7 linked regions of the Homo sapiens genome follow. The protein of the gene in region 1 purifies or fractionates together with the protein of each later gene. This does not show direct contact. Each region holds a gene or a part of one and is shown in the gene's direction. Other genes may lie near its edges.

Region 1 (3,500 bases):
TTCCTTGGGTGACCCTCCAGGGTGGTCAGGTAGCATTCCCAGACCATAAGATGAAAACGTCGTCCATGGAGAGAGAGAGGAGGTGTTCGGGTCACAGGAGAGGCAGAGGGTACACAGCACTCCCCATCTGGAGTGTCCCACGGTCAGCCCGATGGTGCCTCAGATGTGAGTAACTTATGAAGGACTCTTGGCCGATTTTCTTAAATCAAACAGGATTCAAGCCAAGTACATCGTGTGTTAATGTCTCTGGGGAGTAGAATTCATTCAGAAATGGACATTTAGTGATTCTCTACTGCCAGTGGAATCTTAAGGCACCCAAAAATCTGAATACCCAAATCTCCCAGCTGGCTGGTCAAGTTTTAGAATGTTGAGCACTCTAAACTGGGAAGAGCCTGGTAGCCGTGGTACCAGGAACACTCACTCTTCCTGCTTGCTGCTTTCCTCATGCTGAGCTGGGCTGAGATCAAGACTCCTGGGGCACTTGCTTCCTCTACCCTTTGTCTGTGGCCAGGTGGGATTCCCACACAGTCAAAGGAAGCCCGTGTCCAACAGGGGCCATTTCCCTTAAATTTCTCTCATCACCCCCAGCTCTGCTGTGCCTCAGGTGGGCCGCTGCCACTCTTCCTTCACGTTCTTGATAATATCAGTGTCTTGAAAGGAAGCTTCTTGCAGGTAGGGAGGACGCTTTTCCCTGGAATAGCTGCTGTGCTCATATGAGTTTGTGCTGGAACATTCTAACCACCTTTCTGTGCCCTGGTTTGGGTTGAAGGGAAGGCGATTTAAATCAAAATAAATCTGCAAGGCAGTTCATCACTGGGACATTGTTTTTCCAAGCCGGGGAAGGCGAATGGGTTAGGGCAGCTTCCCACAGACGGCAACTCCGGGAGAATATCACCGGGGCCTTCCAGTCTGCCGCAGCCCCGGGAGCTTCTACCCAGGGCAGGTCAGTGTTGTCCGGTTTGATTTTAAGGAACCCCTGGCATTGCCAACAGTTGTGTTTTTCTTAAAGAAATCCTTGAGCCAGGTCCACATGGCTCTAGCTTTGCTGTGTTAAGGTGCCCGACGCCCTGTTGTCACATGTACACACGCCCAGCAAAGCTGGGCTGCTTCACCCACCAGCCACCATCCTCTCGTGCCAAGTCAAAGAAAGTGAAAGCCACCAGTGTCATGATATTTGCCTCGGGATTATTCTGTGGGTGACACGTGATGTCCTAGGAGAGGCCTAGGGGAGGTGCGACTCTGATGGGCTCTGAGTGTTTCCCCACCAATGCTGGGAGAGGGTCTTGTCTCCTGCTGGGTTCAAGGGATGGGATAGGAAGGGGCTGAGGTGCCAGGCAAAAGTCTTGTCTCCTGCAGGGTTTGAGGGATGGGACAGGAAGGGGCTGAGGTACCAGGTGAGGGTCTTGTCTCCTGCACTGGCTCCTGCTGGCATCATGAGCTGGCATCCGTGGCAGCCCCCGGAGCTGCAGGATTTGGGCTTCCGAGCAAAGGTGCTCCCCCGGCAAGGATGGGGCGGACCACAGGGCCGGCATTTCAGTGGTGGGTGAGTTGCAGGGCCCCTGGGGAAGACTGGGACGTGGCATTTCCATGAGCGTGGGCTACGGAGCCCGTAATTGTTAGTGTTTCAGGGTTTGCCAGTGGGGAAGCTTGAGGAACTCCCCCGTGATAAGCGCCGCCGTGAGAGAGGCCATCACCCCAGCTCTTCTTCCAGGGCCGAGCGCGGCAGGGAAGGAGGAGAGGGCAGGGCAGGAGAATAAATTTCATTTTACTGTAGAAATGGAAATTTGTGTCATGGCTTTAAAAATCTGGTTTTATGTGTGTGTTTAATGCCATTCATTTTAAATGTAGTATCATAAATCATTGCTTCAGAATCAAAGCTGTTTAATTACATTTCACCCATGAATAGTTATCTAATGCCAATAGAGAAAGAGTTAAAAAGGAGAACTACAGAGTAAATCAGAGGTTGAGATCTTCAGCACAAGCATAAAAAATCAATTTAAGATGAATTTTACTACTATAAAAATTCTTCAAATATCCCTTTAAGAGTGGGAACTGCTAGGAAAGCCAGCTCACATTTCAATTCCCTCAGCAGCATGAGAGAAGGACGCCCGCGTGGGCAGAGGCTTGGTGTGCACCCCGTTTTGCTCAGGGGTGATGAAGGAATCCTAACTCTGGAGTCTGAGCAGTTGCTGGGGGCACAGAACCTCCCAGCTCTCGTGGTAGAATGCCCCCTCTCCCACAGTGTACCCTCGCTTCCCTGAGAAACCCCATCTGCGGGGTGTGATGGCCAGCCAGACCCCGCTAGTCCTGAAGACTAACCCTGACCTTGAGGTGCATGCCTCGCCAACCAATCCCACATCCCAGTCTTACCCGGGGACCGTACAACTCACCCACCACTGAAACGGCAGCCCCTGTGCTCCACTCCATCCTCGCCGGGGGGGCACCTTTGCTTCGGAGCCCAAATCCTGCAGCCCCAGGTGCCACCACGGACGCCAGCTCATGACACCAGCAGAGGTAGTGCAGGAGACAAGACCCTCACCCAGCGCCTCAGCCCCTTCCTGTCCCATCCCTCGAACCCTGAAGGAGATGTCAGCTGAGCTCTTGCTGCAGGAGGTGCCAGGCCCAGGTGGCTTGATCAGGGGTTTTGTTTCCTCAGTTGAAGGTCGGGGCACATGGGCCCCATCACGCTTGCTCTTCCTGTCTGGGCAGTGGTGGTTGACAGCAGCCAGCTCTGCATCACTCAGGAGGGAGCCGGGGCTAACCCTCACTGCACAGGGCTTCCACCCCTCTGTTCGGCCGCCTTCCCCAGGGATCAGGACAGCAAAGTACATTACATATTTCTCCATCGTTCTTCTTAGATAGCATCAGTACACTGTTTATTCGGTTAGCAAAGAGCAGAGCAAGAATTGAATGACTGAAGGTGTGTCTCTGAAATTGAATAATATTTAAGCCAAGCAGAAGTTCTCCTTTCCGTGGCCAGACCTCACTAACGGGGAAGGAAATTGGGCAGTGAAAAGACAGCACTCCCATGCCCTAAGGAAACTCTGAGAGAGGCCACTTCGTTGCCTGCTCGGCAGGCCCATTCTCTGCCTGCAGAGTGAGCCCGGCTTCCCCCAGGGCCTCTTTGTGACGGGACCGACAAGGGTTTCCAGGCAGTGGCTTGGGCTGTGGAGACCTCAGCCTGTGTATTAAGGGTACTGGGCTGAATGAGGGCACTGTCTGCGTGAGTTCCCTTGGGCAGGGATCTGGGTAAGGCGGCAGTTTGGAGAAGACCGGGGCATGTTCTGTCTGGCCGCAGTGTCCACGGGGTCAGCGTAATTTAGCCGGCTCTGCTGGGCTTGGTTCACAGGTCCGACTGCTGGTCACAGTTATCCGTGGCTGTCGGTCATCCTAGTGAGCTTCCTTCTTTTTCCCTTCATTCTCTGGCTCCTTCCTTAAAACCGTCAGGATTTGTGTGCTTGGAAACCTCTGACCACCCTCCTGCTCCACCGTGAAAAACA
Region 2 (3,500 bases), on another chromosome or scaffold:
TAGCAGAATTTTGAATTGTAGTGGTAAAGTGGGCATTATTGCTTTGTGTTTGATCTTCTGGGGAAAACATTTAGTCTTTCACCATTAAGTCTGATCTTAGCTGTAGGTTTTTTGTAGGTGCTTTTTATCACGTTGTGGAAGTTCTCTTTGATTTCTCATTTGCTGAGAGGTTTTATCAGGGTTGGATGTTGGATATTTTTCAAATGCTTTTTTACTGCATATATTGAAATAGGTGGTTTTTCATTTTTAGTCTGCCAATGTGGTGAATGACATTGATTTTCAATTATGAAATTAGACTTACATTCCTGGGATAAACTGAACTTGGTCACAATATACTATTCTAATTATATTTTGTTGGATTTGATTTGCTAAAATTTTGTTGAGAATTTTTGAACTTATGTTCATGGGATAGTTGTAGTTTTCTTGTAATGTTTTGGTGTTGGAATCAGTAATGTAGCTTCAGAATGATTTCTGAAGTATTCTGTTCAGTTTTCTGAAAGAATTTATACAGGATTGACATTTTATACCCAACTTAAATTTTTGGTAGAATTCATCTGAGCCTGCACTTGTCTTTGTAGGAAGATTTTTGACTACAAATTTACTTTGTTTAATAGATTAGAGATATTTGTGTTACTTATTTTTTTCTTTTTTTTTTTTTTTGAGATGGAGTCTCGGTCTGTTGCCCAGGCTGGAGTGCAGTGGTGCGATCTCAGCTCACTGCAAGCTCTGCCTCCTGGGTTCACACCATTCTCCTGCCCCAGCGTCCCAGGTAGCTGGGACTACAGGTGCCCACCACCATGCCCGGCTAATTTTTTGTATTTTTAGTAGAGACAGGGTTTCACCGTGTTAACCAGGATGGTCTCAATTTCCTGACCTCGTGATCTGCTCGCCTCGGCCTCCCAAAGTTCTGGGATTACAAGCATGAGCCGCCACACCCGGCCACTTATTTTTTTCTTGAGTGACTGTTTTCTACTTGCAGTTCTATTAGTTTTTGTTTCATGTATTCTGACAATCAGTTTATGTGAATACATGTTTTATGGATTAAAATATTAGATTATTATTATATCCTCTAAATGAATTGGCTTGTTATCGTTATGAAATGGCCCCCTTTATCCTTAGTAATTTTTTTTTGTTCTAAAATGTCCTTTGGTATTGATGCAGCCAGTCCAGCTTTATTGATTAAGGGGTTAGCATGGTATGTGTTTTTCAATACTATTACTTTCCCTTATTTATATTTAATGTGAATTTCTTATAGGCAGCATATAAATGGGTCTTGCTGTTTAATCAGACAGTTCGTGTCTTTGAGTTGAATTATTGAAGCCAGGCATGGTGGCTCACATCTGTAATCCCAGCACTTTGGGAGGCCAAGGCATGTGGATCACTTGAGGCCAGGAGTTCAAAACCAGCCTGGCCAACATGGCGAAACTGTCTCTACTAAAAATACAAAAAAATAGCCAGGCGTGGTGGCATGTGCCTGTAGTCCCAGCTGCTTGGGGGGCTGAGCCACAAGAATTGCTTGAACCCAGGGGGCGGAGGTTGCAGTGAGCTGAGATTGTGCCACTGCACTCCATCCTGGGTGACAGAGTGAGACTCTATCTCAAAAAAAAAAAAAAAAAGAAAAGAAAATTAATTGAGTTACTGAGATTATTTACGTTTAATGATTATTGATAATGGTGGGTTTACTTATTTATTTTTTGACTGATAGCATACCTGATTTATTTATTTTTTTCACATTTCTGTTTTTTATTTTAAATTTTTTTTTCCTTTTCTATGTTTAGATGTTTATTTTTAATTTTTTTAAATTTTTCCATAAGTTATTGGTGTACAAGTGGTATTTGGTTACATGAGCAAGTTTTTTTGTTTGTTTGTTTTTTGAGACGGAGTCTTGCTTTGTCACCCTGGCTGGAGTGCAGTAGTGCTATCTCAGCTCACTGCAATCTCCACCTTCTGGGATCAAGCCATCCTCCTTCCTCAGCCTCCCAAGTAGCTGAACTACAGGCATGTGCCACCATGCCCGGCTACTTTTTGCATTTTTAGTAGAGACAGGGTTTCACCACGTTGGCCAGGTTGGTCTTGAACTCCTGAACTCAAGTAATCTGCCCACCTCGGCCTCCCAAAGTGTTGGGATTACAGGCGTGAGCCACTGTGCCAGTTTAGTGGTGATTTGTGAGATTTTGGTGCACCTATCACCCGAGCAATATACGCTACACCATATTTGTAGTATTTCATCCCTTGCCCCTCTTTCATTCTTCCCCCCAAGTACCCGGAGTCCATTGTATCATTCTTATGCTTTTGCATCCTCATAACTTAGTCCTGCATATCAGTGATAACATACGATGTTTGGTTTTCCATTCCTGAGTTACCTCACTTAGAATAATAGTCTCCAGTCTCATCCAGGTCACTGCAAATGCTGTTAATCCATTCCTTTTTATGGCTGCATAGTATTCCATCCTGTATATACCACAGTTTCTTTATCTACTCGTTGATTGATGGGCATTTGGGTTGGTTCCATGATTTTGCAGTTGTGAATTGTGCTGCTATAAAATTATGTGTGAAAGTATCTTTTTTGTATAATGACTTCTTTTCCTCTGGGTAGATACCCAGTAGTGGGATTGCTTGATCAAATGGTAGTTCTACTTTTAGTTCTTTAAGGAATCTCCACGCTGTTTTCCATAGTGGCTATACTAGTTTGCTTTCCCACCAGGACATAGAAGTGTTCCTTGTTCACCACATCCATGCCAACATTGTTTTTTTTTTGAGATGGAGTTTCGCTCTTGTTGCCCAGGCTGGAGTGCAATGGCGCAATCTCGGCTCACTGCAACCTCTGCCTCCCGGGTTCAAGTGATTCTCCTGCCTCAGCCTCCCGAGTAGCTGGGATTACAGGCATGCGCCACCATACCCAGCTAATTTTGTATTTTTAGTAGAGACGTGGTTTCTCCATGTTAGTCAGGCTGGTCTCAAACTCCCGACCTCGGGTGATCCGCCCATCTCGGCCTCCCAAAGTGCTGGGATTACAGGTGTGAGCCACTGTGCCCGGCTTTTTTTCTTTTTTTAAGTCAAAGGCTCACTCTGTTGCCCAGGCTGGGGTGCAGTGGCACAATCTTGGCTCACTGCAACCTCCGCTTCCCAGGTTCAAGTGATTCTCCTGCTTCAGCCTCCTTAAGTAGCTGGGATTACAGGTGCCTGCCACCATGCCCGACTAATTTTTGTATTTTTAGTAGACATGGGGTTTCACCATGTTGGCCAGGCTGGTCTTGAACTCCTGACCTCAGGTGATCTGCCCACCTCAACCTCCGGAAGTGCTGGGATTACAGGCATGAGCAACCGTGCCTGGCTGCCAACATCTACTGTTTTTTGATTTTTTGATTATGGCCATTCTTGCAGGAGTAAGGTGGTATCACATTGTGGTTTTGCTTTGCATTTCCCTGATCATTAGTGATGTTGAGCATTTTTTCATGTTTGTTGGCCATTTGTGTATCTTCTTTTGATAATTGTCTATT
Region 3 (3,500 bases), on another chromosome or scaffold:
TTTCACTGGTGTATGCGCATGTGCGCGCGTGTGTGTGTGTGTGTGTGTGTGTGTGTGTGTGTCTGTGTGTGTGTGTGTGTGTGTGTGTGAAATATCTCTTTGGTGCCCTTGCGTTACTGGTGCCCTAAACATGCATTTAGTCTGCCTCTTGGGAAATCAGCATTAACATTCAGGAACAATTTAGAGGTATTTAAATAAGGGATGATAAGATTAGATGCAGGTTTTGAAAGGTAACTCCTGACTTCTAGATAATGATGCAAAGTTACAAGGATAATGCAAGGATGAGGTTAGAAATGGAGCAGAGAGACCAGATGCTGTTGCAGTGGTCCAGGGGAGGGATGATAGGAACCAGAAATAGGGCAATATAGATATGAGATTAGAACTGAAAACTGAGTAGTTTCACTAGACCTGAGAGTCCATTTGGACATGGGGGGAAAGAGTTGAAGATGATGCTAGGATTTCTTCTTTGGCAGCTTCCCTTCTTTAGCAAGGGAAGGCCAGATTATTTTTATTGAGCACTTCCAGTGAGCCAGGTATTTTGCTAGACAGCGAAGTTGTCACGAGTTCTCATTTAACATTTTGAAATAATTTCAAACCTAATGAGAAATCTCAAGAAAAGTACAACAAAGAGCTCCTGAATCGCCTTAAACTAATTTTTAACATTGTACTAGCTATGTACCGTGTGTATACACAGCTCAAGATGAGCCTGGAACACCTCGTGCTTGGCTCAGTAAGGCCTTTTCCAGATGCCCCAAGTGGTCACCTTGGAATTGTGTTTAGCCCTTTCCCTTTTTCTACTGTATCTAATTGGATCCTCAAATTTCAGTGAAACAACCTCATCATCTCTCATTTCTGGTCCTACATTTTAATCCTTATTTCTCCATTTCAGGGGAATGCACCATTTCTAATTTCATTTGGCTTTTTTCCTGAATTATTTGAGAGCAAGTTGCAGACATGATCCCTATCACTACTAAATATTTTAGTGTGTATTTAGCAAAACAGGACAATCTCCTACATAACCGCCAAATCAGGAAATCAACGTTGATATAACACTACCTTCAGGTCGAACCTAGATGCCATTCAAATTTTTCCAACTATCCCAGTAGTATCTCTCTTTTCTTTTTGGTCCAGCATCCAATTCAGGTTCACACATTGCATTTAATTGTCACATCTTTTAGTTTCCATCAGTTTGGAATGATTCCTCAATATTTCCCTGTCCTTTATGACCTTGACAGTTTTAATGAGCAGAGTCCTTTTTTTCTGTTACATGTTTTCCTCAACTTAAGTTCATCCAGTGGTTCCTCATGTGCAGACCGAGTGCATTGTTGGCAGGAATGCCATAGAAATAATGTCGTGATATTCTTAGTACATCACTAAGAGACGTGCTGTATAGTCCTGCTACTAGCGATGTTTAACTTTGAACACCTGTTAAATTCAAGTCTGCTGGGTTTCTCTACTGTGAAGTTATCGTTTTTTTCCTTTTGTAATTGGGAATTCTTATGTGAGAAGATATCTGGGAGTGTGTCAATAGAGCTGAAGGCTGTAACCACGAGCCTTCAGGTCTGATGATTGCTACCTGAATCAGCCACAACTGTGAAAGTTGTCACCTACATTTATTAGTTCATATTCTACTGAAAGAAGATTTTCTCCTTCTTCTCCATACATTTATTTATTCATTCATTTATATCAATATATACTCCTGGATTTGTTTCTGTTTAGTGGTTTATATTAGTTACTGTCATTTTAAAATTTCATTTTGTTGGTCAAATTGTCCCAAATTTGGCCTTTAAGTTGGCTCCTCTATCTCCTTGACCTGTCCCCCTCCTTGGTGTATTTCCTTACTTTCTGGCCTAACAAGATGTTCCAGATGATCTTAATACTCTCCTATCCCAGCTCTGAAATCATTTATTTTTCCAAGGAATCCTGATTTTATTTTACTTTTTTAAGTAGAGATGCTATTTAGGAACTGAGATCCGAGTGTTCAGTGTGTTCATTTCTGCTGGCATGTCATCACTTTTAGGGGGATAGAGCTAGGAAATACATATATGTATACACACATCTGAATCTGTTTCTATGCCTATGTACAGGTATTTTATAAGTTCACACTGATACAACCAATTCCAATCTAACATCTCAGGATTCGTCTAGCCTTTTCCCTTTCTGTATTTGTAAATCTCTTCTCCAGCAGTGATAAATTGGTTCCTATTATCTCCTCAGTGTATTTACTTATTTGCTCAATCCCCTTGTATGTGCCAGTCTTCCGACCCCGCATTAGTTGTCTCCTTTCTCCTTGCTTGCCGCCTCTGAGGCCTGTGGCATGGGGTCCTCAGAGCTTGCTGTCAGGTCCATGTAGGAAAGAGAACTTCTCATTTAATCTTTTTCCCCTCATTTAATCAGGACAGAAATTTGTTAGAAAGGTGCTATTCCCAGTTTTAAAAGGAGAACAGAGCTGAAATTCAAAAAGGTCTGTGTCTTTAGGCATGTTACTGTGTAAATAGCTGAGTAAATATTTTGCATTCAGATTCGTCTGATACTGAAGCATCTTTTCTCTCCTGTACTGCATAGCCTCTGAGTATCTGTGGAATCCAAAGTGGCAGGATTTAAGGTTGTATAGATGGTAGCTGAAGCAATGGGTGGGACTGTCACTGCTTATGAAGTATATATAAAGTTAGGAAGAGGCACACTGACAGAGCTCCTAACTACCATCACTGAAAGATTAAGGGCTCTCCGAAATCAAGAAGCCAGTGAAGAAGACTGAAAGAAAGGTTGTGAGAGAGGAGTGTGGTTGTGTGTTAGATGATGGTGAAGTAAGGAATTTCATGAAGCTGCCATGTTGCTGAGAGAAAAAGAGAAGACCAAGAGGCTTTGAATTTGACTGTTGGAAAGTTATTGATAATCTCAGCTAGTTGGTTTTCCAGTGTGTTCAGGCGAGCTGCCTGTATCAGAATTATGGAGATACTAATGAAAAATATGAACTCCCCAGGTCTCATCTCAGACCTTATAGATTCTTAAAAGGGGGAGTGGGGAGCCAGGAAGTGGTAGCCTGGGAAAATCTGCTGAAATGCTAAGGTTCTTCTGAGGTGTACTAGTTTGAGGTTTGTTGCTTTAGCAGAAGAGTTATAGTGGAAGAGTGTAATAAACTAAATTGAGGAAACCAAGTGTACAATGAATATAGATGAGACAGCTCTTCGAGAAGTTTGCCATAGAGGTAAAAGATCTCAGGTCATGGAAGAATAGGGGACAGCATCAAGAAAAATACCTTTGCGTTTCAAGGGTTACATACACCTTAACATTTGTTGGGATTAAGAGAAGGAAACTGTAATGGTTATTTTAAAGTTGGGTAAGCAAAACTAATTAGCAACACCTACTATCAAAAAAATGCCCTGAGTGAACTTTGATATGTATCTGGGATAGCTGCCTGCTCCCATTTTAAATGCCATCTTTTGGTAGGTCTTTGGAGTAATCCAAGGGTCATTGTTTATTTTGTTTTTAGTTAAATT
Region 4 (3,500 bases), on another chromosome or scaffold:
AATATGACTTGAAACATATAAGGGTTTTACTGAAATTTGGGAACTCCTATTATAGAGAGATTTATAGTAAGATTTGACCTACTTGGTCTGATTGTATGAGAGATTCTGGACTAAGTTATACGTAGTGCTGAACTCCACAGATGAGCAAGTTGATATCCAGTCATAGAAATTCTGTGGGCAGAAAGGGGAAAGAACTAGTCTTTGGTCCTCACAAACCAAATTACACATAAGTTGATTTTGCACAGAGATGTTTTGATCATGATACATGGTTCCATGGTTTAAGTCACCGCCTTTCCTCGACCTTCTGTATACATTAACAAGCCAGCCATTACTGTCCTCGTCTTTATTCCCTACTGAAACTTGACCAATACTGTTCTCCTTTTTTGTTGTTATGCCAAGGAAAGACAGTATTTATATGGGAATTTATATAGCTGGTCTGTACCTAGTATTAGCAAGATCCTCCTTTCTCACTATGTAACTTTCGTACTTTTATTTCCTCAGACTACCATCTGCCATGATTTATTTTACACTGCTGTTACCTACTTTTACTAACTTTTTTGGTTATTTTTGTTTTCCTTATTCTTTACATTTCCCACAGTCTTTGCCTTCCCATTTTAATCCTTTGCTCCTCCATTCATTCACTGCTGCATTCCCTTACATATTTCCCCTTTGCTTTGTCTTTTTCCAGCCTCCCCCACTGGCAGGATTGCCATGAGTTGTGGAGTAAGAAACGGCGACGTCAGCGACAAAGTGGTGTTGTAGTCGAAGAGCCACCTCCATCCAAAACTTCTCGAAAAGAAACTACCTCAGGGACAAGTACTGAGCCTGTGAAGAACAGCAGCCCAGCACCACCTCAGCCTGCTCCTGGCAAGGTGGAGTCTGGGGCTGGGGATGCAATAGGTCAGTGCCAGAATGGGGCCTTTGTGCTTTTGCTAAGCGTATTTGGCAGGTTTTGAAGGTCAAGTGTAAGGAGTTTGTGTGTGTGTCTGTTTTTTAGTTTTTGGTCCAGTGAACCATTAGGAAAGAGGTTAATGTCCTCATTATGGTGAGAAGGAGATTAACCAAGTTTCGTACATATGGTCCAGAAAGTCTACAATAGATCATTTTCCTTTCCTGAAATATGTACGGAACACTGTATCTCAATTAGATGTGTGGCATAAATCAGTGAATTAGGTAAGCCAAATTTAATTTAAGGTTAGTTCACCCATGACTTTATGAAACACATAATTTGGAGCCTTGTTTATATTAGATTTGATAAGACCTTCATAGAATCTAGTAGTGTTAAATTACAATTGCTAAATGTTGTTCTATAGACTGTTATTTTGATCTAAATGTATCTGAAACTATGTCATATTGAACTGTTATAACAAAGTAGTTCTCCTGTGTTATGACCAATTCTTCGGGACAAAAGATACTCTTTTTCTGGTTCACTTTCCCCTCTTCACTTATAGCAGTGGCTTTTAATACTGGCTGTATATTAGAATCATCCTGGAAGCTTTAAAAACAAATATGCCTATACGATTGCCTATCTCTAGGGATGGGTCCTGAGGCATCTGAATAGGAGAGATTTTTAAATCTCTCTTAGTAATTCTGATGTATAATAAAGGATTGAAAATCACAGAACTTGAAAAATACAGATAAAGTGAAGTCACTTTTATGCACAATCCAGAGATGTTTTAGTTATTAGTGCCTGTATTTCTTAAGCGAAAGCATAAAGAGTAACAAAATGTGTCATGACATTTTGAGGCATGAAAAAATGAGACATTTAAAATGAAATTTCATTTTTTGGATATTGTAAGTTGCTGTTGCCAGTTGAAGAAGGCAAAGGGCCCTTGGCCTATCTCATCGTCTTATATTGGCTTCACTGTCTTTCAACAGGCCTTGCTGACATCACACAACAGCTGAATCAAAGTGAATTGGCAGTGTTATTAAACCTGCTGCAGAGCCAAACCGACCTGAGCATCCCTCAAATGGCACAGCTGCTTAACATCCACTCCAACCCAGAGATGCAGCAGCAGCTGGAAGCCCTGAACCAATCCATCAGTGCCCTGACGGAAGCTACTTCCCAGCAGCAGGACTCAGAGACCATGGCCCCAGAGGAGTCTTTGAAGGAAGCACCCTCTGCCCCAGTGATCCTGCCTTCAGCAGAACAGACGACCCTTGAAGCTTCAAGCACACCAGCTGACATGCAGAATATATTGGCAGTTCTCTTGAGTCAGCTGATGAAAACCCAAGAGCCAGCAGGCAGTCTGGAGGAAAACAACAGTGACAAGAACAGTGGGCCACAGGGGCCCCGAAGAACTCCCACAATGCCACAGGAGGAGGCAGCAGGTAAACAGACCGGTCATGAATCTCATTGAGCTCAGGTGCTGTTGATACCCTCTTAAAAATCTCTTAACATTTTTTTTCCCCCACATCAATGGCCTTGGTTTCAGTTATTCTGTAACCTAGTCTACAGGAGAACATAGCACCAAGTAATGTATTTCTTGCTTGGCTTCTTTTATTTAAGTCTCAAAGCTTCCCAAAGCACCTTTCCTATACTGATTGTTTTTCCACCTCCTAGGAGATAGGTAAGTAAAGCCCCTGTGTTCTAACCAAGGAAACCACAACCATAGCTAGTGATGCATCTTGAACCACACATCTTGAACTGTGTGTGGTGGCCAACTAGTCCTAGCACTTGGAAATCTGACTTCCAAACAAACCATTATCAGACTATACTTCTTTACCTCTAGTGGAGTGGATGCTGAATGCCAGTCTTTCCTGGAAGATACAATCAAGAAAACCCTAATAAAATATCATTGTTAATTTCCTGAAGAATAATTTGGGAATATTTCTAAGTAGATAATTAACACTATACATTTCTTTTCCCAAAAATAATAGTGTATAAGAACAATTCCTTTAAATCTGTTTCTGATAGAAGCAATTGAATGGACCCCAGATCAGGAAGTGCGTGTATTATAAAGAAAAAAAAGGAAAATGGGGATAAGTTATACGTTAATCTCACATGACCATAGCGTGCAATTTATTAGAGGGAAAAGCAGTTTAAGTTCTTTAATTCTGATTCACACTGTATTTGCAAAATCTTTACTTATGTAAAAATGTTTTTAACTCCTCGGAAATTCTCACTGTCCATGAAGACCCCATGAATTGGGGAATAAGAAGAGGCTCGAGGGCTGAAGAGATATACTAATCTTCAACTTTAGGGTCCTACATTCACATTTCATATGAGGTGGTGCAGAAAGTATATGTTTTAAGGCCTGGCCTATGGCCAGAAGTTGTTGGATTTACTTTTCAGAGGAAAGTGTAGAGATGCCGTAACTAATTATTGCAGTCACCCCTGGATTATTCAGCTGATGCCTCTACAGTGGCTCACTTGTTCTTGTTTCTCCCCTGCTATCTCTATTTGGCCATTTCACTGTTAATTAGCACTTCCACCAGAGGGCAGACTGTATAAACCAGAGAAGGTGACAGCCTATTAATTGGGCTGCTGTTTTACTATT
Region 5 (3,500 bases), on another chromosome or scaffold:
TTCCATTTGTTTGTGTCATCTGATTTCTTTTAGCAGTGTTTTGTAGTTTTCCTTGTAGAGGTCTTTTACTTCCTTAGTTAGGTATATTCCTAGGTTTTGCAGCTATTGTAAAAGGGGTTGAGTTGTTGATTTGATTTGCAGCTTGTTTGCTGTTGCTGTATAGCAGTACTACTGATTTATGTACATTGATTTTGTATCCTGAAACCTAACAGAATTCATTTATCAGATCTAGGAGCTTTTTGGATGAGTTTTTAGGGTTTTCTAGGTATACAATCATATCATTTACTAACAGTGACAGGTTGACTTCCTCTTTACCAATTTGGATGCCTTTTAATTTCTCTTTTCTGACTGACTGTGGCTGGCTAGGGCTTCCACTACTATGTTGAATAGAAGTGGTGAAAGTGGGCATCCTTGTCTTTTTCCAGTTCTCATGGGGAATGCTTTCAACTTTTCCCCGTTCAGTATAACGTTGGCTGTGGGTTTGTCATGGATGGCTTTTATTACCTTCAAGTATGTTCCTTCTATGCTGATTTTGCTGAGTGTTTTCATCATAAAGGGATGCTGGATTTTGTCAGACGTTTTTTCTGCTTCTATTGAAGTGATCATGTGTTTTCGTTTGTTTTTCTCTTAGAGTTTCGCTCTTGTTGCCCAGGCTGGGGTGCAGTGGTACCATCTCAGCTCACTGCAACCTCCACCACCCAGGTTCAAGGGATTCTCCTGCCTCAGCCTCCCAAGTAGCTGAGATACCACATCTGGCTAATTTTTGTATTTTTAGATGGGGTTTCACCATGTTGGCCAGGCTGGTCTCAAACTCCTGACCTCAAGTGATCTGCCCTCCTCGGCCTCCCAAAGTGCTGGGATTACAGGCATGAGCCACCGCACCCGGCCTGATTTTTGTTTTTAATTCTGTTTATATGGTGTATCACATGTATTGACTTGTGTATATTAAACTTTCCCTGCATCCCTGGTTTGAAATCCATTTGATCATGGTAGATTATCTTTTTGATATACTGTTGGATTTGGTTAGCTAGTATTTTGTTGAGGATTTTTGCATCTATGTTCATCAGGGATATTGGTCTGTAGTTTTCTTTTTTGTCATGTCCTTTCCTGGTTTTGGTATTAGAGTGATACTGGCTTCATAGGATGATTTAGGGAGTATTCCCTCTTTCTCTTTTGGAATGGTTTCAGTAAGATTGGTACCAGTTCTTCTTTGAATGTCTGATAGAATTCAGCAGTGAATCCATCTGGTCCTGGACTTTTTCTTCTTGGCAATTTTTTTATTACCATTTCAATCTAAGTGCTTGTTATTGGTCTGTTCAGAGTTCTTATTTCTTCCTGGTTTAATCTAGGAGGTTGTATATTTCCAGGAATTTATCCATCTCCTCTAGGTTTTCTAGTTTGTGAGCACAAATGTGTTCATAGTAGCCTTGAATGATCTTTTGTATTTCTGTGGTATTCGTTGTTAATATTTCCTGTTTCATTTCTAATTGAACTTATTTGGATCTTCTCTCTTCTTTTCTTGGTTAATCTCACTAATGGGCTATCAATTTTGTTTATCTTTTCAAAGAACCAGCTTTTTGTTTCATTTATCTTTTGTATTTTGTTGTTGTTGTTTCATTTTTATTAAGTTCTACTCTGGTCTTTGTTATATCTTTCCTCCTCCTGGGTTTGGGTTTGGTTTGTTCTTATTTCTCTAGTTCTTGAGGTGTGACCTTAGATTGTCAATTTGTGCTCTTTCAGACTTTTTGATGTAGGCACTTAATGCTGTGAACTTTCCTCTTAGCACTGCTTTTGCTGTATCTTAGAGGTTTTGTTAGGTTGTGTCACTTTTTTCATTCAGTTCAAAGAATTTTTTTAATTTCCAGCTTGATTTTGATTTCATTATTGACCCAAAGATCATTCAGGAGCGGATTATTTAATGTTGCATGGTTCTAAGAATTCCCTTTGGAGTTGACTTCCAATTTTATTCCACTATGGTCTGAGAGAGTACTTGATATAATTTTGATTTTCTTAAATTTATTGAGACTTGTTTTGTGGCCTATCATATGGTCTCTATCTTGGAGAATGTTCCATGAATGTTCTGATGAATAGAATGTATATTCTGCAGTTGTTGGGTAGAATGTTCTGTAAATACCTGTTAAGTCCATTTGTTCTAGGGTATAAGTCCATTGTTTCTATGTTGACTTACTGTATTGAAGTCCCCCACTATGAGATGAGATTCTATTTTTGTGTATTTCAAGGTTTTGCTCTAAGATTTAGAACTCCTTTTAGCAGTTTTTGTAAACTATGCTGGCTTGGTAGTGGCAAATTCTCTCAGCGTTTGAAAAAGACTTTCATCTTTTCTTCATTTATGAAGCTTAGTTTCACTGGATACAAAATTCTTGGCTGATAATTATTTTGTCAGCTAATAATTATTTAATAAGGCTAAAGATAAGACCTTTATCCCCTCTAGCTTGTAGAGTATCTGCTGTTAATCTGATAGGTTTTTCCTTTACAGGTTACCTGATGCTTTTGCCTCCCAGCTCTTAAGATTTTTTCCTTCATCTTGACTTTAGATAGCCTGATGACTGTGTGTCTAGGTGATGATCTTTTTGTGATGAATTTCCTGGGTGTTCTTTGAGCTTCTTGTATTTGGATGTCTAGATCTCGAGCAAGGCCAGAGAAGTTTTTATTCTTTTGCCTTTGTCTTTGTTGAATTGGGTTAATTCAAGAGCCTTGTCTTTGAGCTCCAAAATTCTTTCTTCTACTTGTTTGGTTCTATTGTTAAAACTTTCCAGTGTATTTTGCATTTCTCTAAATGTGTCTTTCATTTCCAGAAGTCATGATTGTTTTTTATTTATGATATCTATTTCTCTGGAGATTTTTTTCGTCTACATCCTGTTTTGTTTTATTTTTAAATTTAAGTTGGTTTTCATCTTTCTCTGGTGCTTCCTTGAGTAGCTTAATAATTGACCTTCTAAATTCTTTTCTGGCAATTCAAAGATTTATTATTGGTTTGGATCCATTGCTGGTAAGCTAGTATAATCTTTTAGGGGTGGTTATAGAACCTTGTTTTGTCATATTACCTGAATTGTTTTTCTGGTTCCTTCTCGTTTGGGTGGACTATGTCAGAAGAAAGATCTGGGACTCAATGTGTGCTGTTTAAATTCTTTTGTCCCACAGAGTGATCCCTTGGTGTGGTGCTCTCCCCCTTCCCTAGGGGTGGGGCTTTCTGAGAGCTGGACTGCAGTGATTGTTATTGCTCTTCTGGGTCGAGCCACCCAGCAGAGCTACTGGGTTCTAGGCTGGTACTGGAGAGTGTCTGCTAAGAGTCCTGTGATGTGATCTGTCTTCAGGTCTGTATGCCATGGATACTAGCACCTGCTCTAATGGAGGTGGTAGGAAAGGAGTGAAGTGGACTGTGTGAGAGTACTTGGTTGTAGTTTTATTTAGTGTACTGGTTGTCTTGAATGCTAGTTATACTAGCACTGAAGTTATTACATGGACAGACTCAGGACCTC
Region 6 (3,500 bases), on another chromosome or scaffold:
TGGAATGCATGCTTTTTTAAAAAAGTATCCTTTATAGGTTCAAAAATGCTTTAAAAAAATAGAGATGGGGTCTTGCTACCTTGTTGACCAGGCTGGTCTTGAACTTGTGGCCTCAAGCCATCCTCCCACTTCAACCTCCCAAAGTGCTGGGATTACAGGTGTGAGCCACTGCATCTGGCCCAAAGGTGCTTTTGAAGTTCAGGATTAAAGAAATACTTATTTATCTTTAGTATTTTAAATTGACATGTAGTTTATTCAGAGAGTTAAATGTGGAATAATTGAATTTACTCCATAATAAATTTATGGTTGCAAGTGGAACTACAGATTACTGACTTAAAAAAAAACTATTGAAGTTGCAGGTTCAAAAAACCCCCAAAACCTAGTGACTTAGTTTTTGCTAGATCCAGAGAAGCTCTTAGCTGTAGGTTATGGATGAGAGGATTCAATATGGTTAAGATCTCAATTCTTCCCAAAGTATTCAATAGGTTCAGTATAATCTCAGTCAAAATCTAAGTTTGTTGTAGAAATTGACAGACTGACTTTAAAATTTATATGGAAATGTAAAGTACTGAGACCAGTCTAAGAATAGTTTTGAAAAAGAACAAGTTGGGGGACTTAGAGTATCTGATTTCAAGGCTAACTGTAACATGACCGTAATCAAGATAATGTGATATTGGAATAAAGAGAGTCATACAGATCAGTGGAATGAATAGAAGAGAGTCTAGGAATAGATCCACACATATATGACCCACTGATTTCTGATAAAGCTGCCAAGAAGGCAACTCAGTGGGGGAAATGATAGTCTTTTCAACTAATGGTGCTTGAACAACTGGATAGCCACATACAGTAATATGAGCCTTGACACTTACCTCACATCCTACAAAGACATTAATTCAAAATGGATTATAGACCTAAATGTAAGAGTTTAACTGTGAAACTTCTATAAGAAAACAAAATTGTAGTGACCTTGGGTTCAGCAAAAAATTTTTAGATAGCGTACAAAAGGCACCAACTATAAAAAAATCAGTAAGTTGGACTTTATCAAAATGAAAAACTATTGCTTCCCAGAGAATGTTTAAGAAAATAAAAACCCAAGCCACAAATGGGGGAAAATAACTGCAATACGTAAATGAAAGATGTGTAACATGAATATATAAAAGAACTCTAACAGCACAATAATAATGAGAAAAATACCTAATTTAAAATCCAACAAATGACTTGTAACTTGTCAAATATTTCAATAGGCACTCACCTTCATGCCAAATAGCACATTAAAAGATGCTCAAAATCATGAGTCATTAAGGAAATGCAAATTAAAACCAAAATGAGATCTCAGTATGTTCCCACTAGAAAGGTTAAAATTAATAAGACTGACCATACCAAGTGTTGGTGAGGAAGTGGAGCACCTGGAACTCTCATATGCTATGGTGAGGAATGTAAAATGGTAAATCATGTTGGAAAATAGTTTGGCAGTTTCTTAAACTATCAAACATATGCCTACTATATAACTTACTGTTTAGTATTTACTAAAAGAAATGAAATCATTCATACAAAAGCTTGTCCACGAGTGTTCATAGCATCTTTATTTGTAATAACCCCCAAAGTGGAAACAACTCAAATGTCAACAGATGAATGTTTAAACAATTGTGGTTTATCCATACAATGGAATATTACTCAGCAATAAAAAAGATGAACTATTACACATGTAACAACAGGAATGAATCTCAGAATAATTATGCTGAGTGAAAGAAACTAGACAAAAAAGTACGGTTTCATTTATGCAAAATTCTAGAAATGAAAAGGAGTCTATAGTGACAGGAAGCAGATCAGTGGGTGCCTAAAAATGGAGAGTGGAGGTAAGGGAGGTGGATTACAAAGGAGGCAGAAACTTTTAGGGGAGATGAATATTTGTGTTATTCTGATTGTGGCAATGATTTCACAGTTATATACATATGTCAAAGCTTATTAAATAGTTCACTTTAAGTATGTGCATGTTACTATATGACAATTATACCTGAATAAAGCTGTGGGGAAAAAAACCAATCAGCGCTTATCCATATTTTACTGAAGGTGTTAAGTAAGATGCTAGTAAATGACAGAATTTCAGCTGAGCCAAGTCTGACTCTTGAAAACTACATTTCCTCTTTAGTGCAGAAAATATTTATGAGAATGGGAGCGTAGAAAAAATGAAATCACAATAAAACAAATTAGTTTCTGATTTTTGGACATGGTCTCATTTTCTAAATTATCACTGTCAGTTTTTTTTCTGCTGCTTCTAGAACATGTTTATTTTGCATAATTTCTCTGGCTTCCAAAATCTGAAGAATTGCCTCTGTTTAAACTCTATTTTCTTCTTTCGTGTACTTGCTCTTGATTTGCTGACCTTCTAAATGGGGACCAGCATCTAATGCTTAATGCAGAGTGCTGGGGACATGGGGAGGCAGGAGGAGCTGGAGGCTGCGTCATGGAAAGACCTTGGCGCCCCCTCAGGAAGGAAGGACTGGCTTGGCAGGATCCCAGGCTGTTTTCCTGGTTCAGCCCTCCCGAAGACATTGTGTTCTCTGCAGCCCTGGAGGGCCTCTTTCTCTCAATTTCTCAGTGAGGTACCTGTTTTGTAATCAGTCCTGTCAGGTGAAGCAGCCATGTTACTACTGGACAATCATGGATTATCTTTTCCCTTCCTTCCTGGATCCAGGTGTCTGAATTTATACCACCAAAATTCTTCCAGATTTTCTATCTAGTGGTTCATTCTCTTTTGTACTTTGTAGTGCCGTTGTTTATTCTCATGATTGATTTTTTTCTGAGCCAATTGGAAGGAATGTCTAACACTGACTGATCAACCCACAGTGTTTAAGAGGAAAAATATATTTTAGAATCTTGAGGGAGTTTTATTTCAGTGTATGTGAATTGTATTGGCTATGTAGCGTCTTCATTTTCATTGTAAGAAGAATTTTGCTACAGTGGGACCGGCTGCTTCTCATCACAAACAGGTTGTGGCTCAGATATTTTCCCCTTTGGAGAGCATTTTCCTGGTCATATTATTATCTTGTTGTCTTTCGTTGCACTCATTGCTCTCTGAGATCATTTTGTTAATGAATTTGCTTATTATACTTTCCTCCTTTAGATTACAAATGGCTTGAGAGCAGGGACCCACCTCTCTTATTCACTGTCCTAACCCTGGGACAATGTCTCATATGTAGTAAACATTAAATATTTGTTAAATGAAATTTTATGTGATTGGGGGACAAGTAAAGTGTAAGTACTTTGGGAGCATCTTTCCATCTTTCTAAAAGAAAGAAATGAAAATAGTTGAGGAGTTACTGGATGAACAGTATTCCTCTGTTAAATCAATCAATGACATACCAATATGTGCTTGAAAGACTGGGCCTGGGCCGGGCGCGGTGGCTCACGCCTGTAATCCCAGCACTTTGGGAGGCCGAGGCGGGTGGATCATGAGGTCAGGAGATCGAGACCATCCTGGCTAACAAGGTGAAACCCCG
Region 7 (3,500 bases), on another chromosome or scaffold:
CAGGGGGCGCTGGGGTGTAGAAGTGATTCTCCTGCCTCAGCCTCCCAAGTAGCTGGGATTATAGGCACCCGCTTCCATGCCCGACTAATTTTGTATTTTTAGTAGACAGGGTTTCTCCATGTTGGCCAGGCTGGTCTCGAACTCCCAATCTCAGGTGATCTGCCCACTTCGGCCTCCCAAAGTGCTGGGATTACAGGCGTGAGCCACCGCGCCTGGCCTATTTTTGTTTTTGTTTTTGTTTTTTTTAGCAGAGACTAGGTTTCATCATGTTGGCCAGGCTGGTCTCCATCCTCACCTCAGGTGATCTGCCCACCTCAGCCTCTCAAAGTGCTGGGATTACAGGTGTGAGCCAGTGCACCTAGCCCACATGTCCTCTTTGTGTAGTGACACCGTCGTGAGGTGAGGGCCCACCCCAGTGACCTCATCTTCACTTGACCCCCTGCGAAGACATATTTCCAAATGAGGTTACATTCTGAGGTGCCGGGGGTTAGGGCTTCAACATCTTTTGGGAGAACATGGTTCAGCCCTTAATGAGATATATTGCCTTATTTTCCTGCTTTTCTCTATGTCTGGCCAGCTTGGTAATGGAAAAACAAAACAGGCTGGGTGTGGTGGCTCACGCCTCTAATCCCAGCACTTTGGGAGGATGAGGCGAGAGGATCGATGGAGCCCAGGAGTTCAAGACCAGCCAGGGCAACATAGCAAGACCCTGCCTCTATTAAAGAGAAAACAAGAAAAAATCCATTCTAAAATACAGAACAAACTCTTAGGACCCCCAGTGTATATTCCACAGCGTGGCGCTGATGCCCGGGCCATGGTACTCCTCCTCCCCTTCCCTGGGTGTCCCTCACCCTCTGCCCTGTCCCCAGCTCAGGCTTCTTCTGGCCTCAGTCTCCCCCAGGCTGGGCCCCAGCACCCTGCAAGGCCTCCTGCAGCCAGGCGCCCTCCAGCGCCCTCAGCATCCATCTCAGCCCAGCTCCACGCCGCCTCCTGCCTCTGCCCCCACCTGGCCGCCTGCTCACAGTGTCCCCAAATCTCTTCCTGTTTCCTGCCTAGGTACAGCCCGCAGACACTGGGCTCCATCCTTGGCCCCCAGTCCATCAGGGCCCCTGACTCTCGCTATCCCAGCCTTGGCTGCAGCTTAGTCCTTACTCCGGACTCCCTCCCCAGTCTCCAGCCACCCACACCCAGCCCCAGACCGTCTTTCTGCCCCCAGGGTTGCTCTCGACCCCCTAGGGTTGTTATAAGGATGTTGTGGTTGGTCTCAATCTCCGTTCTTCAGGCTTATGTGACGGGGACCCGCAGCCTGCTGCACACCCTGCCTCTCCTCCTCAGGTACAAACATTCCCTTTCCTGGGCCGTGTGGCCGGCCTTTGCTCCAACATCCGGGACTCTTCATTCCAGTCCAAGCAGACGGGCCGGCGGGACACCAAGGTTGTCAGCATGGTGGGCCGCGTGCAGATGGACATGCTGCAGGTATGGGCGGGAGGTGGGGTGTGTCCCTGTCCTTGGAAGGCCACTGCCCAGGCCCGCAGCCCACCAGCCCACCCACCCACCTAGGTGCTGCTGCGGGAGTACAAGCTCCGCTCCTACACGCTCAATGCCGTGAGCTTCCACTTCCTGGGCGAGCAGAAGGAGGACGTGCAGCACAGCATCATCACCGACCTGCAGGTGCCTGCTGCCTCCCTGACCTCTCACCCCAACCTCTGACCTCCACCTCACCCTTCCCCGGCCTCTGACCTCAACTTCACGCCCCCACGTCTGACCTCACTCTTTGACCTGCTGTTATGACCTGTGACCTTACCTGACGCCCACTTTTTCCTGACCTCTGACCCCAGATTTCTCTCCACTCCTGTGACCTCTGTCACTATGACCTTGTCTCTGCTTTCCTGGCCTGACCACAGGTCCACGGTGGCCTTCAGGCTGCTCCCTCCTCCTCCCTCTGGCCCTGTGGACTCCCTGGCCCCCAACCCTACCTCCATCCCCACCCAGACCCTGACGACTTGGAGGGCCCTCCTGCCCGCCTCACCTCCCAGGCCCTCCCCAGGCTACCTCACCCTGACCCCCACTTCCTTCTCCTGCTCCACCTCCCACCCCCAACCCCTGGTCCCTGACCCCATCCGTGCCCATCCCCAGAATGGGAACGACCAGACCCGCCGCCGCCTGGCTGTGTACTGCCTGAAGGATGCCTACCTGCCACTGCGGCTGCTGGAGCGGCTCATGGTGCTGGTGAACGCCGTGGAGATGGCGAGGGTCACTGGCGTGCCCCTCAGCTACCTGCTCAGTCGTGGCCAGCAGGTCAAGGTCGTATCCCAGCTGTTGCGGCAGGTCAGTAGCCGAGACTTGTCCTCGCCACCCCCCACCAGGCACGTCTGTGGCCCCCTCCAGGCAATGGCATCCTGGATGCACTTTTTCTCCCCACTCCCAATCCGCACGGCCCCACCTATACCCACTCCATTTCCCACCTTCTCCCCTCCCAGGCCATGCACGAGGGGCTGCTGATGCCCGTGGTGAAGTCAGAGGGCGGCGAGGACTACACGGGAGCCACTGTCATCGAGCCCCTCAAAGGGTGAGGCCCCAGGCTGGGTGCAGTTTTTACCTGTAATCTCTGGGAGGCTGAGGTGGGAGGATCACTTGAGCTCAGGAGTTTGAGACCAGCCAGGGCAACATAGCGAGGCCCCTGCTCCACAAAATTTTTTTATTTTTATTTATTTTTATTTTTATTTTTTTGAGACAGAGTCTCGCTCTGTCACCCAGGCTGGAGTGCAGTGGCGCAATCTCAGCTCACTGCAAGCTTTGCCTCCCGGGTTCACGCCATTCTCCTACCTCAGTCTCCACAGCAGCTGGGACTACAGGCGCCCACCACCACGCCTGGCTAATTTTTTTTTTTTTTTTTTTTTTTGCATTTTTAGTAGGGACGGGGTTTCACCGTGTTAGCCAGGATGGTCTCGATCTGACCTCGTGATCCACCTGCCTCGGCCTCCCAAAGTGCTGGGATTATAGGCGTGAGCCACCGTGCCCGGCCGAAAAAATTTTTAAAAATTAGCCAGGCGTGGTGGTGCATGCCTGTAATCCCAGCTACTTGGGAGGCTGAGCTGGGAGGATGATGAGCCCAGGAGGTGGAGGCTGCAGTGAGCGATGATTGCGCCACTGCCCTCCAGCCTGGGCGACAGAGCAACACCCCGGCCCTAAAATAAATTAATAGGCCAGGCACGGTGGCTCACCCCTGTAATCAATCCCAGCACTTTGGGAGGTCAAGGCAGGCGGATCACAAGTTCAGGAGATTGGGACCATCCTGGCTAACACGGTGAAACCCCGTCTCTACTAAAAATACAGAAATTAGCTGGGCATGGTGGCGGGCGCCTGCAGTGCCAGCTACTCGGGAGGCTGAGGCAGAAGAATCGCTTGAACCCGGGAGGTGGAGGTTGCAGTGAGCTGAGATTGCGCCACTGCACTCCAGCCTGGGTGACAAAGCGAGACTCCGTCTCAAAAAAAATAAA

What was found.
Region 2: the proteins of MGMT (region 1) and DDX24 purify together in Homo sapiens (affinity purification with mass spectrometry, with the first as the bait; one study listed by BioGRID). This does not show direct contact.
Region 3: the proteins of MGMT (region 1) and PTPN4 purify together in Homo sapiens (affinity purification with mass spectrometry, with the first as the bait; one study listed by BioGRID). This does not show direct contact.
Region 4: the proteins of MGMT (region 1) and CDK12 purify together in Homo sapiens (affinity purification with mass spectrometry, with the first as the bait; one study listed by BioGRID). This does not show direct contact.
Region 5: the proteins of MGMT (region 1) and DTL purify together in Homo sapiens (affinity purification with western blotting, with the first as the bait; one study listed by BioGRID). This does not show direct contact.
Region 6: the proteins of MGMT (region 1) and PRKCH purify together in Homo sapiens (affinity purification with mass spectrometry, with the first as the bait; one study listed by BioGRID). This does not show direct contact.
Region 7: the proteins of MGMT (region 1) and POLD1 purify together in Homo sapiens (affinity purification with western blotting, with the first as the bait; one study listed by BioGRID). This does not show direct contact.

The regions. Positions count from the first base shown.
Region 1 is NC_000010.11:129,701,241-129,704,740, forward strand, and holds part of MGMT (methylated-DNA--protein-cysteine methyltransferase), read left to right. Parts: intron 1-3,500. UniProt on the Homo sapiens protein: Involved in the cellular defense against the biological effects of O6-methylguanine (O6-MeG) and O4-methylthymine (O4-MeT) in DNA. Repairs the methylated nucleobase in DNA by stoichiometrically transferring the methyl group to a cysteine residue in the enzyme.
Region 2 is NC_000014.9:94,071,203-94,074,702, reverse strand, and holds part of DDX24 (ATP-dependent RNA helicase DDX24), read left to right. Parts: intron 1-3,500. UniProt on the Homo sapiens protein: ATP-dependent RNA helicase that plays a role in various aspects of RNA metabolism including pre-mRNA splicing and is thereby involved in different biological processes such as cell cycle regulation or innate immunity.
Region 3 is NC_000002.12:119,766,422-119,769,921, forward strand, and holds part of PTPN4 (tyrosine-protein phosphatase non-receptor type 4), read left to right. Parts: intron 1-3,500. UniProt on the Homo sapiens protein: Phosphatase that plays a role in immunity, learning, synaptic plasticity or cell homeostasis. Regulates neuronal cell homeostasis by protecting neurons against apoptosis.
Region 4 is NC_000017.11:39,523,986-39,527,485, forward strand, and holds part of CDK12 (cyclin-dependent kinase 12), read left to right. Parts: intron 1-688; coding exon 689-900; intron 901-1,878; coding exon 1,879-2,331; intron 2,332-3,500. UniProt on the Homo sapiens protein: Cyclin-dependent kinase that phosphorylates the C-terminal domain (CTD) of the large subunit of RNA polymerase II (POLR2A), thereby acting as a key regulator of transcription elongation.
Region 5 is NC_000001.11:212,094,748-212,098,247, forward strand, and holds part of DTL (denticleless protein homolog), read left to right. Parts: intron 1-3,500. UniProt on the Homo sapiens protein: Substrate-specific adapter of a DCX (DDB1-CUL4-X-box) E3 ubiquitin-protein ligase complex required for cell cycle control, DNA damage response and translesion DNA synthesis.
Region 6 is NC_000014.9:61,324,579-61,328,078, forward strand, and holds part of PRKCH (protein kinase C eta type), read left to right. Parts: intron 1-3,500. UniProt on the Homo sapiens protein: Calcium-independent, phospholipid- and diacylglycerol (DAG)-dependent serine/threonine-protein kinase that is involved in the regulation of cell differentiation in keratinocytes and pre-B cell receptor, mediates regulation of epithelial tight junction integrity and foam cell formation, and is required for glioblastoma proliferation and apoptosis prevention in MCF-7 cells.
Region 7 is NC_000019.10:50,404,847-50,408,346, forward strand, and holds part of POLD1 (DNA polymerase delta catalytic subunit), read left to right. Parts: intron 1-1,335; coding exon 1,336-1,476; intron 1,477-1,560; coding exon 1,561-1,671; intron 1,672-2,136; coding exon 2,137-2,328; intron 2,329-2,480; coding exon 2,481-2,569; intron 2,570-3,500. UniProt on the Homo sapiens protein: As the catalytic component of the trimeric (Pol-delta3 complex) and tetrameric DNA polymerase delta complexes (Pol-delta4 complex), plays a crucial role in high fidelity genome replication, including in lagging strand synthesis, and repair.